Linked DNA regions of Homo sapiens. The protein of the gene in region 1 purifies or fractionates together with the protein of each later gene. This does not show direct contact. Each region holds a gene or a part of one and is shown on either strand. Other genes may lie near its edges.

Evidence for each region.
Region 2: the proteins of CASP9 (region 1) and NLRP1 purify together in Homo sapiens (affinity purification with western blotting; 2 studies listed by BioGRID). This does not show direct contact.
Region 3: the proteins of CASP9 (region 1) and DCC purify together in Homo sapiens (co-immunoprecipitation; 3 studies listed by BioGRID and IntAct, with this or other methods). This does not show direct contact.

Annotation. Positions count from the first base shown.
Region 1 is NC_000001.11:15,493,200-15,500,309, forward strand, and holds part of CASP9 (caspase-9 isoform alpha precursor), read right to left. Parts: intron 2,254-7,110; coding exon 2,074-2,253; intron 803-2,073; coding exon 693-802; coding exon of another isoform or gene 585-692; exon of another isoform or gene 1-584. UniProt on the Homo sapiens protein: Involved in the activation cascade of caspases responsible for apoptosis execution. Binding of caspase-9 to Apaf-1 leads to activation of the protease which then cleaves and activates effector caspases caspase-3 (CASP3) or caspase-7 (CASP7).
Region 2 is NC_000017.11:5,553,494-5,560,603, forward strand, and holds part of NLRP1 (NACHT, LRR and PYD domains-containing protein 1), read right to left. Parts: intron 6,551-7,110; coding exon 4,846-6,550; intron 1,106-4,845; exon of another isoform or gene 1,013-1,105; intron 651-1,012; exon of another isoform or gene 508-650; intron 64-507; coding exon 1-63.
Region 3 is NC_000018.10:52,343,164-52,350,273, forward strand, and holds part of DCC (netrin receptor DCC), read left to right. Parts: intron 1-7,110. UniProt on the Homo sapiens protein: Receptor for netrin required for axon guidance. Mediates axon attraction of neuronal growth cones in the developing nervous system upon ligand binding. Its association with UNC5 proteins may trigger signaling for axon repulsion.

The DNA.
Region 1 (7,110 bases):
CCTTTAAAAAACTCAAAATTCAAAATTTCCAAATTCATAAAGTTCAAATCAGACTGAAATATTTGCAAGGAGCCAGGAGTGGCCCCAGCCTCGCAGCCCCTTCTCGTGGCATGAATACCTGAGCAGAGCAGCTGGGGCCCATACATGCTGCCTCCCAAGGCAGCCACAAGGCCACAGGACCCTCAGAGGAAGCAACTGCTCTGAGTCGGGTTTCTATGGAGTAGGACTGGGCCTATCAGGCCACCCTTCCCTATCTGTTTCCTCACTGGGGCCTCCTGAGAAGGCGATGTACAAGGAGGGGTTCACAATTCTTGAGGGTCAAGAGTAGAAGACTACATGATGCCCACAGGATATAGGGAGGGGCCCATGACCCGCCTTCAGGGTCTGGACAGAGCCATCCTGCGCTGGCACTGAGGACCAGCTCCATCAGTGGAGGAGCGGGAGGTGTCAACCTGGGGACCTTGGAGGAGACAGGGAAGGCAACTCTTTGAATAAAGGGCAAACGTCACCACAGGCAGGATGCCTCTCATAAAGAGACACAAAAGTGCCGACTCCAAGGCTCAGAGGCAGGAGTCTACTACCTTTTACCCTTGGTTTGGGCCTGCCCTGCTCACCCCAAATCCCCAGCCCCAGGAGGACACGCTGCCCCTCAGCAGCCTCCCCTCTCCTTTGCAGAGGAAGGCAGCACTCACCCTAAGCAGGAGGGACTGCAGGTCTTCAGAGTGAGCCCACTGCTCAAAGATGTCGTCCAGGGTCTCAACGTACCAGGAGCCACTCTTGGGGTCCCTCCAGGAAACAAAACCTTTGGAGGGAGGAGGGCTGAACACTGCTGGAGAGCCACCCCTCCGCCGGCTCCCCACCACCCCTCTGGCCATGCACGCTGGCTCGGGCGCCCTCCAGACCTTGACTCATACATACATCCAACAGGAGCAGCCTGGCCCCTGAGGCTCTGCCCTAATCATGATCTTATTTCACCCTCATGACCATCCCCTGATTCCGGCTATAATTCCTGTTTTCCCAGCAAGGAAACCAAGGCTTGGAAAAGTCAAGTGACTCATCCAAGACATAAGAAAGGAAGGAAACTGCCAGGCACAGTGGCTCACACCTGTAATCCCAGCATTTTGGAAGGCCGAGGTGGGCAAATCACTTGAGGTCAGGAATTCTTGACCAGCCTGGCCAACATGGTGAAACCCTGTGTCTACTAAAAATACAAAAATTAGCTGGGTGTGGTGATGCATGCCTGTAATCCCAGCTACTTAGGAGGCTAAGGCAGGAGAATTACTTCAACCCGGGAGGTGGAGGTTGCAGTGAGCTGAGATCATGCTACTGAACTCCAGCCTGGGCGACAAAGCAAGACTCCGTCTCAAAAAAAAAAAAAAAAAGGCTGGGCGCGGTGGCTCACGCCTGTAATCCCAGCACTTTGGGAAGCCGAGGCAGGTGGATCACGAGGTCAGGAGATCGAGACCATCGTGGCTAACACGGTGAAACCCCATCTCTACTAAAAATACAAAAAATTAGCCAGGCGTGGTGGCAGGTGCTTGTAGTCCCAGCTACTTGGGAGGCTGAGGCAGGAGAATGGTGTGAACCCGGGATGCAGAGCTTGCAGTGACCCAAGATCGCGCCACTGCACTCCAGCCTGGGCAACAGAGCGAGATTCCATCTCAAAAAAAAAAAAAAAAAAAAAAAAGAAGGAAGGAAACTACCGCTTGCTGCAACTACTACGTGCCCCGCACTGTGCTCAGTGACGTGCCAGCCACCTTGTTTAATTCCCATGGAAACCCCTGAGGCACGATTCCTATTCCCCTGCTAAAGATGCGAAGGCAGAGGCAGGGTCAGGCAGAGGAGAGGCAAGTGAGGCATAGGAACCCAAGGGCGCAGGCCTCCTTGCAGCGCGCATCCTTGCCCGCTCAGCCTGAGCCGAGGCTCAGAGAGAAGTAACTTGCTCAGGGTCACAGAGGGGCAAAAGACAGAACCAGGACTCATACCCTGGTCTTTTCTCTCACCACACAGCTGCCTCTAGGGCAGACGGGAAGACCCACTGGCTGCGAGGACGAGCCCTTCTGATGTGCTCACCTGGGAAAGTAGAGTAGGACACAAAGATGTCACTGGGTGTGGGCAAACTAGATATGGCGTCCAGCTGGTCGAAGGTCCTCAAACCTTCCTGGAACGGGGTGGCATCTGGCTCGGGGTTACTGCCAGGGGACTCGTCTTCAGGGGAAGTGGAGGCCACCTCAAACCCATGGTCTTTCTGCTCTGCAGGAAGCAGAAACAAACACCTCTTGTCATTGAAATACACAGACAAGGATGGTTCAACATATGAAAGTCGGTGCAATATACTACATTAACAGTGTGAAAGGAAAATAAATCTTGGGACCCCAAACTCATTAAGCCAAACGGAAAAGTCAAGCTGGGAACTGGGTCACGCAAACCTGCCTCCCCGTTTTGGTTCCTAAATAAGATGGCTACAAGATGAAAAGCTACACACCTCTCCCATATTTTGCCCACAAGGAAATTCCTGGTGAGCTCCAAGATAGTTGTCTGATAAAATTCACCACGGCAATGTAAATGGATAGCTTATCTTTACAGAGGCATCACCCCTCTGCCCACCTGGCACAAATGCATATCTGATTATTCCCCTGCCCCATTTGTCTTTGTTATCTTACGTAAAAATGCAGGTTCCCTGCATTTTCCCCTGCCCTATGTTACCTTACGTAAAAATGCAAATTCACTGAGCCAGACAAATGCTTGAATGACTATTTCCCCCTACCCTGCTCTTACCTGAAAACTGTGTACTTCTCAATATCCTGCCCTTTCCCCTTTAAATTTGGAACCCTAAAATTCATGTTCAGAGAAAGGCATAGACCTGTCTCCTGGGCGTGCATCCTTAACTTTGGCAAAAGAAACTTCTTAAATTGACTGAGACCTGTCTCAGATTTTTGGGGTTCATAAGAGAATGAAAAAAACCCTACATCATCATCTCAATTGATGCAGAAAAAAGCACATGACAAAATTCAACAAGCTTTCATGATAAAAACAGTCAACAAACTCAGAATAGAAGGAAACTACCTCAACATAGTAAAAGCCATATATGAAAAACCCACAGCAAACATTATACTCAATGGTGAAAGACTGAAACCTTTTTCTATAAGATCAGGAAGAAGGCAAGAATTTCTGCTTTTGCCACTTCTATTCAACACATTACTAGAAGTTAATAGAGCAAGGAGGCAAGAAAAAGAAATAAAAGACATTCAAATTGGAAAGAAGGAGTAAAATTATCTCTACTCACAAATGGTATGATTTTATATGCAGAAAACCCTAAAGATGAAACACTATTAGAACAAATAAAATTAGCATATTAGCAGGATACGAAGCCAACCACAAAAAATACTTCCATTTCTATACACTAACAATGAACAATCAGAAAAAGAAATTACAAAAATGGTTCCATTGACAATAGCATCAAAAATAATAAAATAGTTAGAAATTAACTTAACCAAGATGAAAGACTTGTAAAATGAAAACTACAAAACATTGCTGAAAGAAAGAAGGCTGGATGCCATGGCTCACGCCTGTAATCTCAACACTTTGGGAGGCTGAGGCAGGAGGATCCCTTGAGCCCAGGAGTTCCAGACCAGCAAAACCTCATCTCTACACATAATAAAAAATTTAGCCAGGTGTGGTGGCATGTGCCTGTGGTCCCAGCTACTCGTGAGGCTGAGGTGGGAGAACCACTTGAGTCCAAGCAGTTGAGGCTGCAGTGTGCAGTGATCGCGCCACTGCACTTCAGCCTGGGTGACAAAGCAAGACCCAGTCTCAAAAAAGAAAAAGAGCCGGGCACAGTGGCTCACACCTGTAATCCCAGCACTTTGGGAGGCCAAGGCAGGCAGATCACCTGAGGTCAGGAGTTTGAAACAAGCCTGGCCAACATGGTAAAACCCCGTCTCTATTAAAAAATACAAAAATTACCCAGGCGTGGTGGTGGGCACCTGTAATCCCAGCTACTTGGGAGGCTGAGGCAGGAAAATCACTTGAATCCAGGAGGCGGAGGTTGCAGTGAGTCAAGATCGTGCCATTGCACTCCAGCCTGGGCAACAGAGCAGGACTCCATCTAAAAAAAAAAAAAAAAAAGAAAGAAAGAAAGAAAGAAAAATAAAGAAGACATAGGCCAGGCACAGTGGCTCACGCCTGTAATCCCAGCACTTTGGGAGACCGAGGCTGGTGGATCACTAGGTCAGGAGATTGAGACCATCCTAGCCAACATGGTGAAACCCCGTCTCTACTAAAAATATAAAAATTAGCTGGGCGTGGTGGCGTGTGCCTGTAATCCCAGCTACTCAGGAGGCTGAAGCAGGAGAATTGCTTGAACCAGGGAGTCAGAGGTTGCAGTGAGCCGAGATGGCGCCACAGTCCTCCAGTCTGACAACAGAGCGAGACTCTGTCTCAAGAAAAAAAAAAAAAAGATATAAATAAATGGAAATATATCCTATGTTCATGGATTAGAAAACTTAAAGATCTCAATACTACCCAAAGCAATCCATAGATTAAATGTAATCCCTATCAAAACCCCAATGATGTTTTTTGCAGAAATAGAAAATCTATCCTAAAATTCACACGAGAATCTCAAGGGACCCCAAATAGACAAAACAATCTGGAAAAAGAGCAAAATTGGAGGACTCACACTTCCTGATTTCAAAACTTACTACAAAGCTACAGTAATCAAAACAGTATGGTACTGGCATAAAGACAGACATAGGTCAATGTCATTGAATAGAGCCCAGACATACACCCTCACATGCGTGGTCAAATGAATTTTGAAAAGGGTGGCAGGACCATTCAGTGGGGAGAGGGCAGTGGTTTTTTGTTTTGTTTTGGGGGATTGTTTTTTGTTTTTGTTTTTGTTTTTTGAGAGAGTCTCATTCTGTCACCCAGGCTGGAGTGCAGTGGTGCAATCACAGCTCACTGCAGCCTTGACCTGCCAGGCTCAAGTGATCCCCCACCTCAGCCTCTCAAGTAGCTGGGACTACAGGTGCCACCACACCCAGTTAATTTTTGTATTTTTTGTAGAGACAGGATCTTGCCATGTTGCCCGGGCTGGTCTCAAACTCCTGGGCTCAAGCAATCTGCCTGCCTTGGCCTCCCAAAGTGCTGGGATTACAGGCATTTTTTTTTTTAAGAGACACACTTTTGCTCTGTTGCCCAGATTGAAGTGGCATGATCTTAACTCGCTCCAGCCTCAAACTCCTGAGCTCAAGCAATCACCCCAAAAAAATGGTTAAGATAGTAAATTTTATGTTATATGTATTTTGCCACAATTTTTAAAAAGACATAAAACTTGTCTTTTTTTAGAAATATAGTTGAGGAAACTGTCCACTATATCATAGGCACTCACTCAAACCCTTTACTCAGGCTGTCAAGATCACAGTGTCCCCTTTAAGACAACCAAGGGAAGAAATGTGTCTGGAGTCTCTATTCCTGACTTCTGTCTTGCAAATACCAGATATAGAACTATAGAACACCAGATTCCATGGATCTTGAAAGTGATCTTTTTTTTTTTTTTTTTTTTTTTTTGAGACAGAGTCTCGCTCTGTCATCCAGGCTGGAATGCAGTGGCGCGATGGCTCACTGCAAGCTTCGCCTCCTGGGTTCAAGCGATTCTCCTGTCTCAGCCTCCCAAGTAGCTGGGACTACAGGCGTGTGCCACCACACCTGGCTAATTATTTGTAGAGATGGGGCTTCACTGTGTTAGCCAGGATGGTCTTGATCTCCTGACCTCGTGATCTGCCCGCCTCAGCCTCCCAAAGTGCTGGGATGACAGGCGTGAGCCACCGCCCCTGGCCAATGATCTTATTTCCAATGGCGGCTGGAAAGCGTAAAAAATGCGCAGGCCACCTCTAGCAAGTAGCTATCAGTATTCCATTTTATGTAATTAGGCAACTGAGACTGAGATAAGTTAAGGGGTTTCCCCCCAGACAGAGGCTGACTGGGACTTTGACCTACCTCATTTTTGAGTCTACTATTACCAATGGCTGGGATTTTTCCATGTTTCTTTACATCTGCAAAGTGATTTTATCTCTAAAATCAGTCGTTGTATACCTTAAATTTTTAATTCACTTGTACATTAGAGAACTGTAGAAAGCTGCAGGACATCCTAGGATGTATTTTTGGAATCCAAACTTTTACTTTTCTTCTCTCCTTGTGTTCCCTCTCTATTTTGTCCTAGTGTTATCATTTGTACTTCTTGCACTATGGCAAATCCTTTTCTAGAATCAAAGAAGCCATCAGAAAAATACCAAATAGACACCAAGTCATGGATAATGAAATCCATGGAGATGTTTACACCTTCTAATCCAGTAATTTCCTAAGAAAATAATTCAAATGCAGTCAAAAGCTTTCTATATGAAGACACCTGTGGTTGTGTGAGCCAAAAATTAGATATCACCTAAATGGCCGACATTAGGAAAATGGTTTAGTAAATTAGTGCATGTCATGAAAATGGCCCATTATAAAGCCATTTGAGCTAGTGATGATGAAGGCCATGGAGATCTGGGGAACTGCTTAAGGGATAACGTTAGCTGAGAAAAGCAGACTGTGCTCATGGGCTGGAATCCAAAAGGAAGATGCAAAAATGAGATGGCTGTATTAGCTTATAACATTCTGAATTATTTTCTTTTTTAGGTTGCCATATTTTTTGTCTTTTCCATTTTAAAATCTAGACTCCCCAAAGGCAGTGCCAAGCTTGGAAAACAGAGAGGTCCTGGCAGGACTTGTGCCCCACATGGCTCAGCTACAGAGCTACTGAAGTGGAGACACTGACGGAGGTCTTCCGGGATGAGGTCTTCTGCAGTAGGGCTCATGGTGGGTGGGGTAAGGCGGAGCACAGAGGGCTACTCAGGAAAGAAGGCATCTAACAAGAGCTTTGGTTAAAAAATATAAATATATATTTAACTATGTATACATACTGCAGAAAAAAAAAGAGAAATTTTTTTAAAAATAGGCTGAAGTTGGAGTAGGAGTGATCCAGAGGGTCCCCTGCAAAAACACTCCTGGAGAATGTGACTGTGATCCAGGCCCTGATGCCATCAGGGAGAACGGTCCTGGTGAGAGAGACAG
Region 2 (7,110 bases), on another chromosome or scaffold:
GTGACCTTGAGGACGGAGAAGAGAATCTGCCAATAGGCATCTGTGACTGGGACCCACCTGAACCTGAGGGGGAGAGAGAAGGACAGGAGAGATGTGATGTGTCTGGCAGGGGTTTGAGGTGCCCAGCCCTGCACAACACAGTTGGGCTTTGTCCCCCTGAGCACCAGGCCACAGCGGGTAGTGCCATCTCCAGTACTGACCAGCCCTCCCTGCCTGTCTGCCCGTCACCCAGGGCTAGGTCCCTCTCCTCCATGTGGCTCCTCATTCTACAGCCCTTACCATAGCACACTGAAGTGTTCACCTTGTGTGTCTGTTTCTGCCTCAGTCTGGGAGTTCCTTGAGGGCAGGGACAGACATTTGTCTTTTTTTTTTTTTTTTTAAATCTGCACTGCTCAGCATAGGGCCTGGCCTCGGTGCTGAGCACTGCAGATAAGAAAAAAATTTTTTAAAAAAATTTGACAATTTTAATTTAAAAAAAATTTGACAGCCTTCCTCCCTTTGATGCAGACACACCTGTGTTCCTTTGGCACAGACATTCTGGAGTCCCAGTGCCCAGGAAAGAAGACGGGAGGCAGTAGCAGAGCCTGGGAGAGATGGCCTGAGGATGTTGTGATGGAAGACTGTATATGATCATATGCACTGCTGTCCAGGTTGGCTCACATGGGACCCTATCCCCTTCCCAGGATAACAAGAGGGTCTGCAGGAGAGGGATGGCTGTGGGGAGTGCCCTAGGAGAGAATATTTGCAGCCTGAGGGGAAGAGATGACGGGCTTTGTCTGAGGGTGTTAGAGTAGACTCCGACTCATGGAATTTCCACCCATTTAATCTGTTTTCACACACTACTTTAGTGACCTCATCTACCTCCAAGGCTTCAACTACTCAAATCTCTATTCCAAGTTTCAGACTGAGTTTTCTATTTTCTGGTTGGATATCCCCACCTTGACATCCCAGTAATTCTTTGATCTAATTTGTCCCAACAAGTCCCCAACCTGAATTCATCTTTTCCCCTAAGTCTGCAGAGCCATGTGGGGGCAAGAAGCAGAGGCAAGGAGCTGCCTGCATGTGGGCTCTGCTTCTCTATCCCTCACTCCGTCTCCTCCGCTGCAAAAAGAGGACAGCAATAGCACCTGCTGCAGAGGGGTATGTGAGAATTAAAAGCTACTAAAGAGTATCCCAAAAGTCCTAGAGCAGTTTTAAGTTTTAATAACTGTGAAAGTACAAGTACTACAAACATATAAAAAAAGCCAGCTGAGTGCAGTGGCTCTAGCCTGTAATCCCAGTACTTGAGGAGGTAGAGGCAGGAGGATCGATTGAGCCCAGGAGTTTAAGACCAGCCTGGGCAACATAGTAAGATCCTGTTTCTACAAAAAATAAAAAAAATTAGGCAATGTGGTGGTGTGCACCTGTAGTCCCAGCTACTCAGGAGGCTGAGGCAGGAGAATGGCTTGAACCTGGGAGGCCAAGGTTGCAGTGAGGTATGGTCATGCCACTGCACTATTCCTGGGAGACACAGTGAGATCCCATCACACACACACACACACACACACACACACACACACACACGAAAAAAAGCCATAAATGAAAGCTTACTTGAATTTCTTTTACACTTACTTAGTTTTGTGAAACTTGAAAAATACATTTTAAATTTTTTATTTCCGTTGGCATTTGCCATCCTTAATCAAGGTGACTGAAAAAAAATTAAAAATTTATACTTGAAAATGCACAATGCTTAATCACATGCCAAACACCTGGAAGCTCCCATCCTGTCATCTTCATTTCTTTAATATCTCTGGTTGGTTCTCCTCTTCCTTCACACAGCCCTTGGCCAACCTCCACCCTTTCTTCCTGAACTTTCTTGTTTTTTTTATAGTAGCTTCCTTATTCTTCTCTCTGCCTTGTCTAGCTGATTCAGTTCCTTGAAAATTTCTCCTCCCACTTGTGGCTGAAGCCTCTGACTTTCCCACGGCATTCTCTTAAGGCTCCACTTGCTCCCGCCCATCCCAAACTCTCCTCTCTGGCCTGGTGTTCTTGGTTCCCTTTGCCTATCCCAGCCCCCATCCCCCGGCCAGCCACCATCTGGTCTCTGCCTCTAGCTGCTTGGAACTCTTTGAAGATTTCCCACCTGTCCACTGCTACTTGCAGTACCTGTATCCAGGTCCTTTAAAGCCTACCTCACATTTATAACTATGAACAACTAGAAGCAGCTTAAAATGGCCAAGAACAGGAGAATGGTCAAATCAGCCATGGCACTTTCCCTATGGAATAGCATGTGGTCATTCAAAATGGTGTTGTATCAGACTACTTAAAAATATATAAAGGGCTGGCATGGTGGCTCATGCCTGTGATCCCAGCACTTTGGGAGGCTGAGGCAGAAGGATCATTTGAGGTCAGGAGTTCAAGACCAACCTGGCCAACATGGTGAAACCCCGTTTCTACTAAGACGACAAAAAATTAGCTGGGTGTGGTGGTGCGTGCCTGTAATCCCAGCTACTCTGGAGGCTGAGGCATGAGAATTGCTTGAACCTGGGAGGCAGAGGTTGCAGTGAGCAGAGATCGTGCCACCGCATGCCAGCCTGGTGACAGAGCAAGACTCTGTCTGTCTCTGTCTCTGTCTCTCTCTCTACACACACACACACACACACACACACACACACACACACACACACACATGAAGGGCTGGGCATGGTGGCTCACATCTGTGATCCCAGCACTTTGGGAGGTCAAGGTGAGCAGCTTGCTTGAGCCCAGGAGTTTGAGACCAGCTTGGTCAACACAGTGAAATCTCATCTCTATACAAAAAATATACAAAAATTATCGCTGCATGTTGGCATGCTCCTGTAGTCTCAGCTCCTAGCGGGGCTGAGGTAAGAGGATCCCTTAAACTCGGGTGGTCCAGGCTGCAGTGAGCTGTGATTGCACCACTGCACTCCAGCCTAGGGGACAGAGCGAGACTCCGTCTCAGACAACAACAAACCAAAAAAAAAAAAAAATACCCCACACCCACTCACAAGAAGATAGCCTTGATATATAAAGAAAATAAAACTGACTATAAAATAAAATGTACAATATGGTTCGATTTCGCCATAGACATGTGCACAGAAAAAAGACTGGGGTTCTTACAATTGACCACTAATTTTTTTTTTTTTTGAGACTGAGTTTTGCTCTTTTTCCCAGGCTGGAGTGAAGTGGCACAATCTCAGCTCACTGCAACCTCTGCCCCTGACCTGTCAAGTGATTCTCCTGCCTCAGCCTCCTGAGTAGCTGGGATTACAGGCGCCTGACACCATTTTCGGCTAATTTATGTATTTTTAGTAGAGATGGGGTTTCACCATGTTGACCAGGCTGGTCTCGAACTCCTGACCTCAGGTGATCCACCTGCCTCGGCCTCCCAAAGTGCTGGGATTACAGGTGTGAGCCACCACACCCAGCCAATTTTTAATGATGGTTATTACAGAATGATGGAATTCTTATTGATACTATTTTTCATCTTTTTGCTTATCTACGTTATCTTTTGTTTGTTTGTTTTTTGAGACGGAGTCTGGCTCTGTTGCCCAGGTTGGAGTTCAGTATCACGATCTCAGCTCATTGCAAACTCCGTCTCCCAGATTCAAGTGATTCTCATGCCTCAGTCTCCCTAATAGCTGGGATTACAGGCGTGTGCCACCATGCCCAGATAATTTTTGTATTTTTTGGTAGAGATGGGGTTTTGCCATGTTGGCCAGGCTGGTCTCGAACTCCTGGCCTCAAGTGATCCTCCTGCTTCAGCCTCCCAAAGTACTGGAATTACAGGTGTGAGCTACTTCACCCAGCCTACATATCTTTTTTTTTTTCCTATAATGAACATGAATTTTATTGTGAGAAAAAGTTTTAAAAATATAAATATGAAGGCCCACATCAAACATTTCTTCCTCTGAGAATCTTTATTACCCACTCGTGTGATCACTCCCTTCCTTGGGCCACCACAGTACCTTGTCCATACCTCTACTGTTGTAGACATCACACTCTGTTGTCATTAAATGAATGTTTGTCTTCTCCCCTATTTTTTGAGCTCCTTAAGGCACGTATTGTGCTTTTTAATCTGTGATCTGTAGGGCCTGGCATAGAATCAGTGCTTAATAAATACTTATGGAATGAATCATCTAAAGCAGGACATAGACACATACCAATAGCATGTGATCGATACCACGACAGAGGTCGGGGAACCGGGATGGGGAAGTTCTCAGTACTGCCGGGCTGGAGAATGGTTGGAGGAAGCTATTCTTGCACAGCCAGAGAGTGGGTTTCAGGTTGAGTGCGTGGGGCAATGGTGGCACCACGGTCACAAATAATTATGAAGTCAGTTTTGCAGGGAAAAATAGGAAACTCTTTTTGAGAGCTGATGGGGAAGATCTCAGGGCCAATGTCGTTGTCATGGAAAGGGTTCCTGAAGCAGCTGGAGGAGCAATTTCTCCGAGAGAATGAATGCCCAGAGAGAGGAGCAGGGGTAGGGGGGCTGCCTGATCCTTGGGGAGTGTGGGGGTAGCTAAGGTCAGCAGGAAGGTGGGAGCACGTCCAGGAGAGAAGATGGACGGTCATTCTAAGGGTAGGAGGAGAGGTGGCAGACACGGCAGGGCCCAGTGGCCTCTCCAGAAGCAAGCAGGGCCTGCCCCACAGCCGGGCACTGCAGAGGAGCTTAGGTAGACAGAGCATGGTGGTCAGATTGGGCAGTTAGAAGTCACTGGAGACCCTGATCCTTTAGCCACCCCCACCCCCGGCCAGGCTCAGTGAGCATGCCTCTGGTGCTCAGGTCACTCGGGCTTATGGACTGACAGAGGAGCTGCAGACATGGGTGGTTTGGGTACTCACAGGACTACCATGGTGGGGCTCCATGTTGATCTGTGCTGCCTGCCCTCAATCAGCTGAAGCTTCTTCACGTGGCGGCTGAATTTAATGCAGAAAGTGCACACTAAGAGCTCCATGTCTGTTTCTACACACATGCCCATTTCTTCGAAATGGGCCATCACTTGTGTCAGGAACGTTTTGTTCCGAGTCTCGTACAAGCAGTGGAGGGACTCCAGAGAGTGTGGCTGCAGCAGCAGCTGCAGGGACGGGACCCACTGCATCAGGTTCCTCCCCTGAGACAGCCGGCAGTGAAAGATGTTCTCCATCTCTCTCTCCCCCTCATCACTTAACAGGCCCAATAGGAAACGTGTGGTTGATGCCCCAAACAGGCCATGTATTCCATATGCTTCTAGCGTCTTTTCCAAATCTATGATGCAATTAGAATGTTTACCTCTCCCCTTCTCATCCTCCAAGACATAGGACATTGCTGCAAAGAACTCTTGGAAACAGAGGTGAATGAAGCTGTAGCTCAGAGGGATGGGGTGCTCTTGAAGAATACCCATCTTCAAGAAGGTGGAGATGATGGCCCCATCTAACCCATGCTTCCTGAGGTCATCTGGACTGAAAAGGGTCTTTTTTTGCCAGATGCCCTCAGCAGCCAGAGAGCAGAGGTCTCTGAGCTGGGGTCCCAATGGCTGAGCTTGGAGAGCCTGGGCAAGGTAATGTAGACAGAGGGTTGTGGTGGTCTTGGAAGTCAGTGTGAGTTTTTCCTTCCGCTTCATCTGCTGCATCAGGCAAGTGCAGGCCAGCCAGGACACCCAGGGCACAAGACACAGGGCCCAGAGCTCTTTGTTTGATTTGACCAACCTAAAGGCTCTAATTGCTTGCCTTTCATCTGTGAAATATCTGTAGAAATATTCCTTCCTGCTGGACTCAGAGAACCCCAGGACCTCTACCCAACGTGCCTGCTCCAAAGAAGGAATGAGGTTCTGCAGAGCTGTGGTCCGAGCCGTGATCAGGAAGGATGCCTCGGGAAGTATAGTTTTCCCCAGCAAACTGCCCAGCAGTGCATCCGCCGGCTGTGGCTGGCTCCAGTGCAGACAGAGCTCAGAACTCGGCTCCTGCAAGACCCATCCTGGCTCATCTACACCATCGAGGATGAAGAGCAGCCGCTCTGGCCTAGACAGGATCTGTCTAATGGGAGCCGGAGTGGCTGTCCCATCTTTTCCGATGAGCTCAGCGAGACTCACCACCTTGGACTGGGCCAGCTCTCTGCAGCTGAAGTAGAAGACATGCTGGAAGCGGTCCCCATACAGCTGGCCTCTCCCCCAGGCTTCCTTCACCTGCCTGGCCAGTGTTGACTTCCCAATTCCAGCAGCCCCCTGCAGTATGACTATGCGAGGTTCTTGGGTATCCAGGCCTGGGCCAAATAAGTCTCTGATCTCAATTAAATGTCCTCGATTCTCCTCCACATAATCAGGCCAGCTTCTCTTGACCAGGGGATCTTGGCTTCTGGGGTGAGGTCTTTGTAGAAGTAGCAGCTGTGTGAATTTTTGGTTAAAATCCTCATTTTTCCAGGGCCATGTGGAACAGAGGCTCTCTCTCACAGAAGGCTCCCATGGGTGGTGGTGGGGCTGTAGGCTGGTGTGCGCCTGTGGGGGCGTTCCTACCACCGCTGCCCATGGGGGCCTGCCTTTCTCTGATTTCTCTCTCTCTCTTTCTCTGATTTCTAAGTAAGGGAGGGAAAGAAGGAACATAAAGGTAGAGAATAGAAGAATTAATTAATTAATTAAACAACTGTTTTAGGCACCTACTCCAAGCCACACACTGCGCTGTCTGCAGACACTGGTATGTTCTTGCCATGCGGCGGAAGGACATGTGCTTTGGGGTAGAATATCCCAGTTCAAGTCTTGACTCAACTAAGTCACACTCCCTGAATGACTTTCCTTCACTGAATATTTATCAAGGGCTTACTCTGTGCCAGGTGCTGCTATAGGGGTTGGGGATAAAGAGTGAACAAAACAGACACAACTCTCAGTCCTCACTAAGCTTATGATGCTGGCCATTAGCCCCTATGAGCCTCAGTTTTCTCATCTGTAAGCTGGGGGTTGTAGGTCATGGAGGACTGGAGGAGACACTGGAGTGTGTAGCAGATGCTGACAGCATCCCAAGCACCTGCTATTGCAGTACCTGCCAATGGTGTCCCTCGGCAACAGCTGTGGTCATCTGTCTGAGGGCTCTTTCTCTGCCTGTAAGCCGGGTGGGCCAGAAATACTGGAGGATAGTTCT
Region 3 (7,110 bases), on another chromosome or scaffold:
CAACACTCTGGCCTTTGCTCATTAATCTGAGTATCACTTCTTTCTCTTAGTAATAATTTCCCCTGTTTAGGAACATGGCAGGAAACTTACAACGAGAAAGCATAGTTCACTCTATAAAAGGACCAGTAGGAGGTGCCCTTAATAAGGCCAAGTGTCTAGTTTACTGGCAGAGAAATTCCCATTCAGCCGGGTGTTTTAAAGACTTTGTTGATTGGTAACAAAGGATTATGGAGACTAGCACAATAGCACTGGGCCCTTTCCCACTTTCTAGGTAAAGTCTGAAGCTGCTGTAGATTTGTATGAAACTGTGATGATTTAACAAAGGACAGCCCTGAAAAGTGTCAGTAGAGAGTGAGGACTTGATGTTGGGGGAGGAGGATGGTGACTTTTTAGTTGGCTTCTGTAAGATGTCATCTTCTTATATATTTGACATGAGCCACAGGCACAGGAACCTTATAGAGTCTCAGGGGATCTCAGATAAGATAACAATTTTGGATGTTGGATGTTAATGAGTGAAAAATGAGGCATACATATTAATTAATTCTTCATACATGTTTGGGTTCCATTGCATTGAAAAAAATCTGTGAGTGTTTAATGTAGTCTGGATATGCTGAAATGAGGCTGGTCGCCCTCCCTAGGCGACCTCTTCTCATTCCCCCAACCAAAGCAGATCAGATGCCCCCATGTGGGTTTGCTTTTGAGTGGCGGGAGTATGGCAGAGCCTGAGGGCTCGGGGTAGGCTGGCAGTCCACTCCTCTGTGAGTGCCGCAGTATAAATCACCAGTACCTGTCAGTGTCCATTTCCCACACAGCAGCAGCTGCCCTCTGAGTTATAAAGCATGGGAAACGGCCACCACATGTGTTATATGTGAATATATTAGGCTTAGTGCCTTTGCTTTAATGCTCTTAAAAGCCAGGCTGGCTTGAGATGCTGATAGGCATTTTTTTCTGGGGAGAGATTTATAACTTCTCAGTGTGTATGACTTAAATTTATTCTCTGGCAAGTTAACCTCTTAGCAAACTTCCTTATTGTTTTCATTGAAGAGGAAGAGCCTTAATCCTACCTAAATTCCTGAATGAAGCTCTGCTGAAAGTTTCTGCTAGAGTACAGGATATTTGCAGGCTGTAGTATGGTTTCCTAAACCAATGGGAAGCTTGACAAGATATATGGGGAGGTGATTTTTTGGTGGGGAGGCGGGGATATTTTTACTTGTTTTTAGAGAGGGAAGTTGTGATACTGCATCTTCTAAAGGAATTCTAGCAACTCAGTTATCTCAAAAGCATCTTTAATGAGAGGAAATGTTTCTCGCTTCCAGTTTCATACATCTAACAGTCTGGGATTCTTCAAATGCATATAATATGCTCCTGGAATGTTTGCAGCTGCACGCAGTAGGGTCATCTAGCAGGATCACTGTCATTTGGAAATGAGCCCTGATTTAAATTTTGACTTGCAGACAAAACACTTATCTTTACCTGGTGCGGCATGTTTAAAAGCAGTGCTGAAGTTTCTGAACAGAATATTTCTTTCCATGGGAGACTGTGCCCTAAGATTACATTTTAAAGTAAGTGTTCTTACCATTTCTTTGGAGAATTTGCCATCCCAAACTTTGCATGTGAAACTTCTTCTTCATGATTCTACCAGTAAAGATAACTATTTAAAGAGAATGCAGTTGTTTCCGGGTATTTCTTTAAAATTAAAATTCAATGTCCACATCCACACACAAACAAGGAGGATTTCCACCCCCTCATACCTTCTCCTTCAAATAGCTGACTTTGGTGTGAATTATGATAGCTCTAATTACATAAGGGCACTTGCAATTTCCCTAGAGAATGAGTTCTTGCCTGATTACAGATCTTCCTACTTTCCATAGGAAGTTTCTGGCCCACACTACTATCAGAAACTTGCACCAAATTGGGAACACATTGCTCTGTTTTGGTATTTGCTACCCAGCTATACATTTTTGAAGGATTAATCTACCTCAGATGATAATCTCTTAGATGAACTATATACATAAATTTCAAGAAATCTTAGCTTTGCCTGAGGCCAAAGAATAATGTCACAAACCTGCTGAAATTACTTGATTAATTGATTGATTAACTAAGGATAAAAAGTCACTTGGTTCTGGAAAAGTACTGTACTCCCTAAAGAGTTCTAAAGAGGAATAGTAAATACTATGCACATTTACAATTCATAAAATGTAAACGTCAAGTCTTCTTCCCCCTCTTTTTCCATTCCTTCCTTATAATGCTCTGGAGGAAAATTTAAGAGTTTCATGAGTTGTCACAACAGTTATATCTTAAGGAATCATAGCTTGGAATCTCACTAACTCATGATTAATAGACACTCAATTAAATAGCAACACAATGTCCGGTGAATTTTTCGGCAGCCTGCTGTGGGCTGCTTGCTTGTTTTCAGCTCGTTTCTAAGGAATCAAAACTCTCATCTCTAAGAGGTGTGGCATCAATACTGCCTCCCTTGACGCAGCCCAAGAAAGCCTTTCTCACTCTGAAACCAAGGCTGTGACCCACAGGCACTGTGTTTAATATGCTGTGTTCCACTTTGCAAGGTCAGGGGGATTTGCCTTAAAAATAAATTTTTAAATGTTCATGCATGCTGCTTTTGGTGGAGAGTTAAACTGTACTCTAAAAGCAGCTAAATAGTGTTGTTATCTTAAGACATTCTAACTTGTGGCCTCTCAGCCAATATTATTGAAGTTCTAGAGCTCACAATCTTTAAGAGAGACAGGAGTGAGCTCTATAAGATAATAGGTTATGCCAACCTAGTTAAGCTACTTTTTTCCCCAAAATGGTGTTACCAGGTTGGAATAATAGAACGTTAACCTTTTTCAAAGTTACTACTTTTCAGAGGAAAAAACATTTCTTAATAATATCATAATATCAGTAGCATGGGACTGACCCAATGTATTTAAGATATTGTTCTTCAAAACAAGATATCAAGGAAAGCCAGTGTTAAACTTGTCAAGAAGAAAGGATGAACAATCCAGATTATTTTCCCTGCAGGCCAATAAAAAATGTGCAAGATAGAATTACATGTTGCATATGCCAAATAGGTAATAGCAAAAAATAAAATGTAAAGTATTATGCACCTTTATCATTGCAGGACTCAGGTAAATGAAACACAATTTAGTAACACACTTTTTCTTTCTCTCACTCTAGAATGTTAATTCCTTATCTTATATTTCTCTGGTTTAACTCCAAACTAAGATGGAGAAATACAGGTTGGCTGACTGATGATCAAAATTATTATAGTGCTCCAAAGTTATTTGACAAATTTTAGCCTGAGGTTTAACAACTAAATCCCTTTAATTCAACTATTAAGTGAAAGTGTTTTCTTTGGTAGTTTAGAAATACCTGAGCTTTGTCCCAATGGTGTGGTTTAGAAATACATAATAATGCATAAGATTGAATATGCCTTCTTTTTCAATATTGATGGGAATTTGCCAATGGTAATACCAGTGCATATTGCTCTTTTATTAATAGTTCCAAACAACCATATTATTCACAGCTTTCATTTCTTGGGGGGAAAAGTTCAAGTAGGAAACACACAAATCATTCCATATTTATTGATCATATTTTTAAGGCTATTCTTATGGCATGACTTCTGTAGGAATGTTTCTCTTTTCTAGTAAATTCCACGAGCCCAGTGTCTATGATCTACTTCTACTTCGTGATATACTTTAGCTTAATTTCACTAATCCAAATTTTTTGACTTTTAGCTTGCTCAGTCATTTCACCATGGCCCTCCAGGGAGGAAGACCCTTTAAAACCATTTGTGGTTATGATGATGAAACTTAACAGGAGTATTTATTGCAATTTGGAGATTTCTTCCTGGTTCATCCTTTAAATATTGGTTCTTGCCTGAAGGCTACTCCTAAGAGTATCTAGGACAAACATGTTCCACTGAATTAACTGAATCTTTAGGATGTTATCTGATGAAAATACCAACTGGTTAGTGAATTGTGTTCTGATAAGAGGACTTGTCAATACAACATTATTCTGGGCCATCTACAATGTTCTTAAATCTGTGTTTACATTTTGACAAGAGAAAAAAGAAGTTAAGCAGTTAATATAAATGTTTTTAACTCAAATCACATTTTTAGATTTTACTTATTTTTCTATAGTCTTTTAGAAATATTTCTCCACTCACTTAGCTGCCTCTTTAAAAGTATGTAGAACATAATTTAACCTGTTCTTAATAGATACAATACATCACTATGACTTCATTATAGTATTATGTGATTTTATAGGGATAATTTTTGAAGGCATTGCATCATACAGAACTGTTTATTTTTCCCATCAATTGACCATGGACTGTTACTATTGTTGAGTTTTATCTCTGGCTATAAAATATATTTTGTCTACATCTTGTGTTCAGCTGAAACTTCTCCCTGTATAAAACTTCCTCAAAGCAGTTCTCTCTTTTAGTTTTGATGTTAAGACATAGGGGACTAAGTTTTGTTGGGGTTGTGTTTAAAGTAGGAGAGGAGATTAGAAAACAGCACCTGAATCCCTTATTAGAGGAATATCTAATTAGTTTTAACTAATGATTCTGTAGCATCTGATATTAATTTGGATGTCACTTGTACTTTGTACAACGTATTTTTCCTTATTAAATGAGAATGTGGACTAGATCAACTCTAGTTATTAGTTTCAACACTATATAATTTATTTAAATTATGAACTGTACTATACATATAGTGTTTGGTATAATTAATAATACAATTCATGATCATGATAACAATAATAATAATGTAATAATAACAAATACCCATGTACCCACTAGCAGTTTTCTGATTTTTGTATTAACCCCTTGCCTTTTGTACAGTTTTTCCACATATGTATACATCTTTAACATGTTACTTTACTTGGCTGTTCTTAACAGTAATAAAATAAATATAATGTGTATATTCTCTGACTTGCAATTTTGCTGAACGTTAAGTATCTGAGTTTCATCTATGTGGATTCATATTGCTGTATTTCAGTCACTTTCTCTGGTGTATAATACTTCATGATATTAATTAACCATAGTTTATCTAATCTATTGTTGATGGATTTTGAAATTCAGTTTTTTGCTATTGCTAGTAAAGTTGGCATAAACATTCTGGTGCATGTCCACCAGCACAAATTTGCCACCATGTTTAGGGTGCATACCTAGGAGTGGAATTGCTGAGTCATAGAAGGGTATCTTTTCATCCGGGAGGCAAAGACATGTTGCAGTTACTGAAACCCCCACCAGGGGCAGATGAAAGGCCTCTTTGCTTCATGCCTCTGCCAACACTTGGTATTTTCATATGCTTAATTTGCCCGCATCTGGTAACTTCTCATTGTGGGTTTAATTCGCATTTTCCTGATTGCTTATAAGTCTGAACATTTTTTCCATTAATTTGTTAGCTATTTGTGATGTCAGCAAGACAATTCTATGATTCTGTTTCTTCAACTGAGCAACATTTGCTTTTAGACCTTAATATTATTGGTAGTTATTCTGTTTCTTCTACTAAGCAACCCTTTGCTTTTAGGCATAGATGTTATCAGTAGTCTAATGTTCAGGAAGTTGTCGCCTAATACTTTACCATGTTGACTCTGGCCTAGGCTTTATTTAAGCACCTTCCCAAAATGTACACTGATTTTGAGTTGGAAAAGACATTCTTAGTCACTGTAACATTGTTGATTACCCTGAGCAAGTCCTGCCATGTTAGTATCCTGCCTTATCCTGTTTATTGTGTCTTTATAGAGAATCATTTACAGGGAAGCAGGATGCTGGGATGCCAGGCTTAATTTGAGGCTCCTTATGAATCCCCTGAATATAATGGAACTAAAGGATAACAGAAACACAGAGTAGTAATGGTAGACACCAAATCTGAGTTAAAAATCTTAATATGATCATTTGAATTTGGGTATATTTCCAACATGGTAAAATACATAGGCCCAATATCATTGTTACATTTATGGCATATATAACTGTGGGTTTCAAACAAACGTATGTGCTTTGTGCACCATCCCCCCCAATTTTTGTTTGGGTTTATAATTTTTTCACCTGCTCCCATGGGACAGGCTAATGAAGACCCCTGAATGAAATAAAGCCTCAGATGTACTTGCAGAGGCCTCTGTAGTGTGTTGCCTTCTGTGCAGACTCATTAGAGATGTGAGCCAAGGCTGAGACATCTAAGCAAACCCTCTGCACCCAGAGTCCTCAATCCATTGTTCCTGCATCTTTTTTCAGTCTCATGGGATCCCAGAAGAATACAAATTAGAGAGAAGAATCTGCAAAGCTTTTCCTTTCATGTTTAATGTCTGGGCAGAGCTGTTCCCTGCAGGACAATTTCTGGTTATTTTCTCTCTCTGGTTTGAGGCATCTCCAGGGATGGTTTGGTGACTGTTTCCCTTGGGGAAGTTTTCAGCAGCATATCAGTTTTACTGTTAAAAGTTTATTTTACAATTCATCTGAGATAGTCCTGTTCTAAATGTTCTTTCCATTACCCTTGTCATCTGGCTCTTGATTCCTGCATACCCTTTTCAGTGACACTGCCTCTTCTGGGCTGAAATGTGTTCAATAATTCGAGCTATAAATCACTCTCGCCTCCCCATTTGGTCTTTACTTAACCAGATTATAAATATTTAATTCATTTGATTTTTCCTCATACCACTCCAGAAGCTTAATCATGTTTAGTCTTCTTACTTTAACTCCCTCTAGTTTGTTTATATCTTTCTTGTAATCAAGGGGCCTAACTCTGATGTGCTCTTCTAAGTAAGCTCTCCAGAGTCATATTATAAAATACAAATTCAGCATCATCTTTAGCTTATTGTACAGCCATAGACAAACATATGGTCTCTCAAAACTTGTGTTATCAGTTTTCAGGAAGGACTATCAATGCCTAATAAAATCATTGAGATATTATAAGGACCAAATAAGACCAAGTATTTCATTGAAGATAGTACAATAGTTACTGAGCCTTTACCAACGATTACAAATAGATGAATAAAAGATTTAGATGAGTTTCTGCCCTGCAGGGGCTTTTCCTCCAGTGAAGGTGACAGGCACACACAGAGGTAGGTAGGATACAAGGTAGAACAAAGTACTCACCGAAAAGG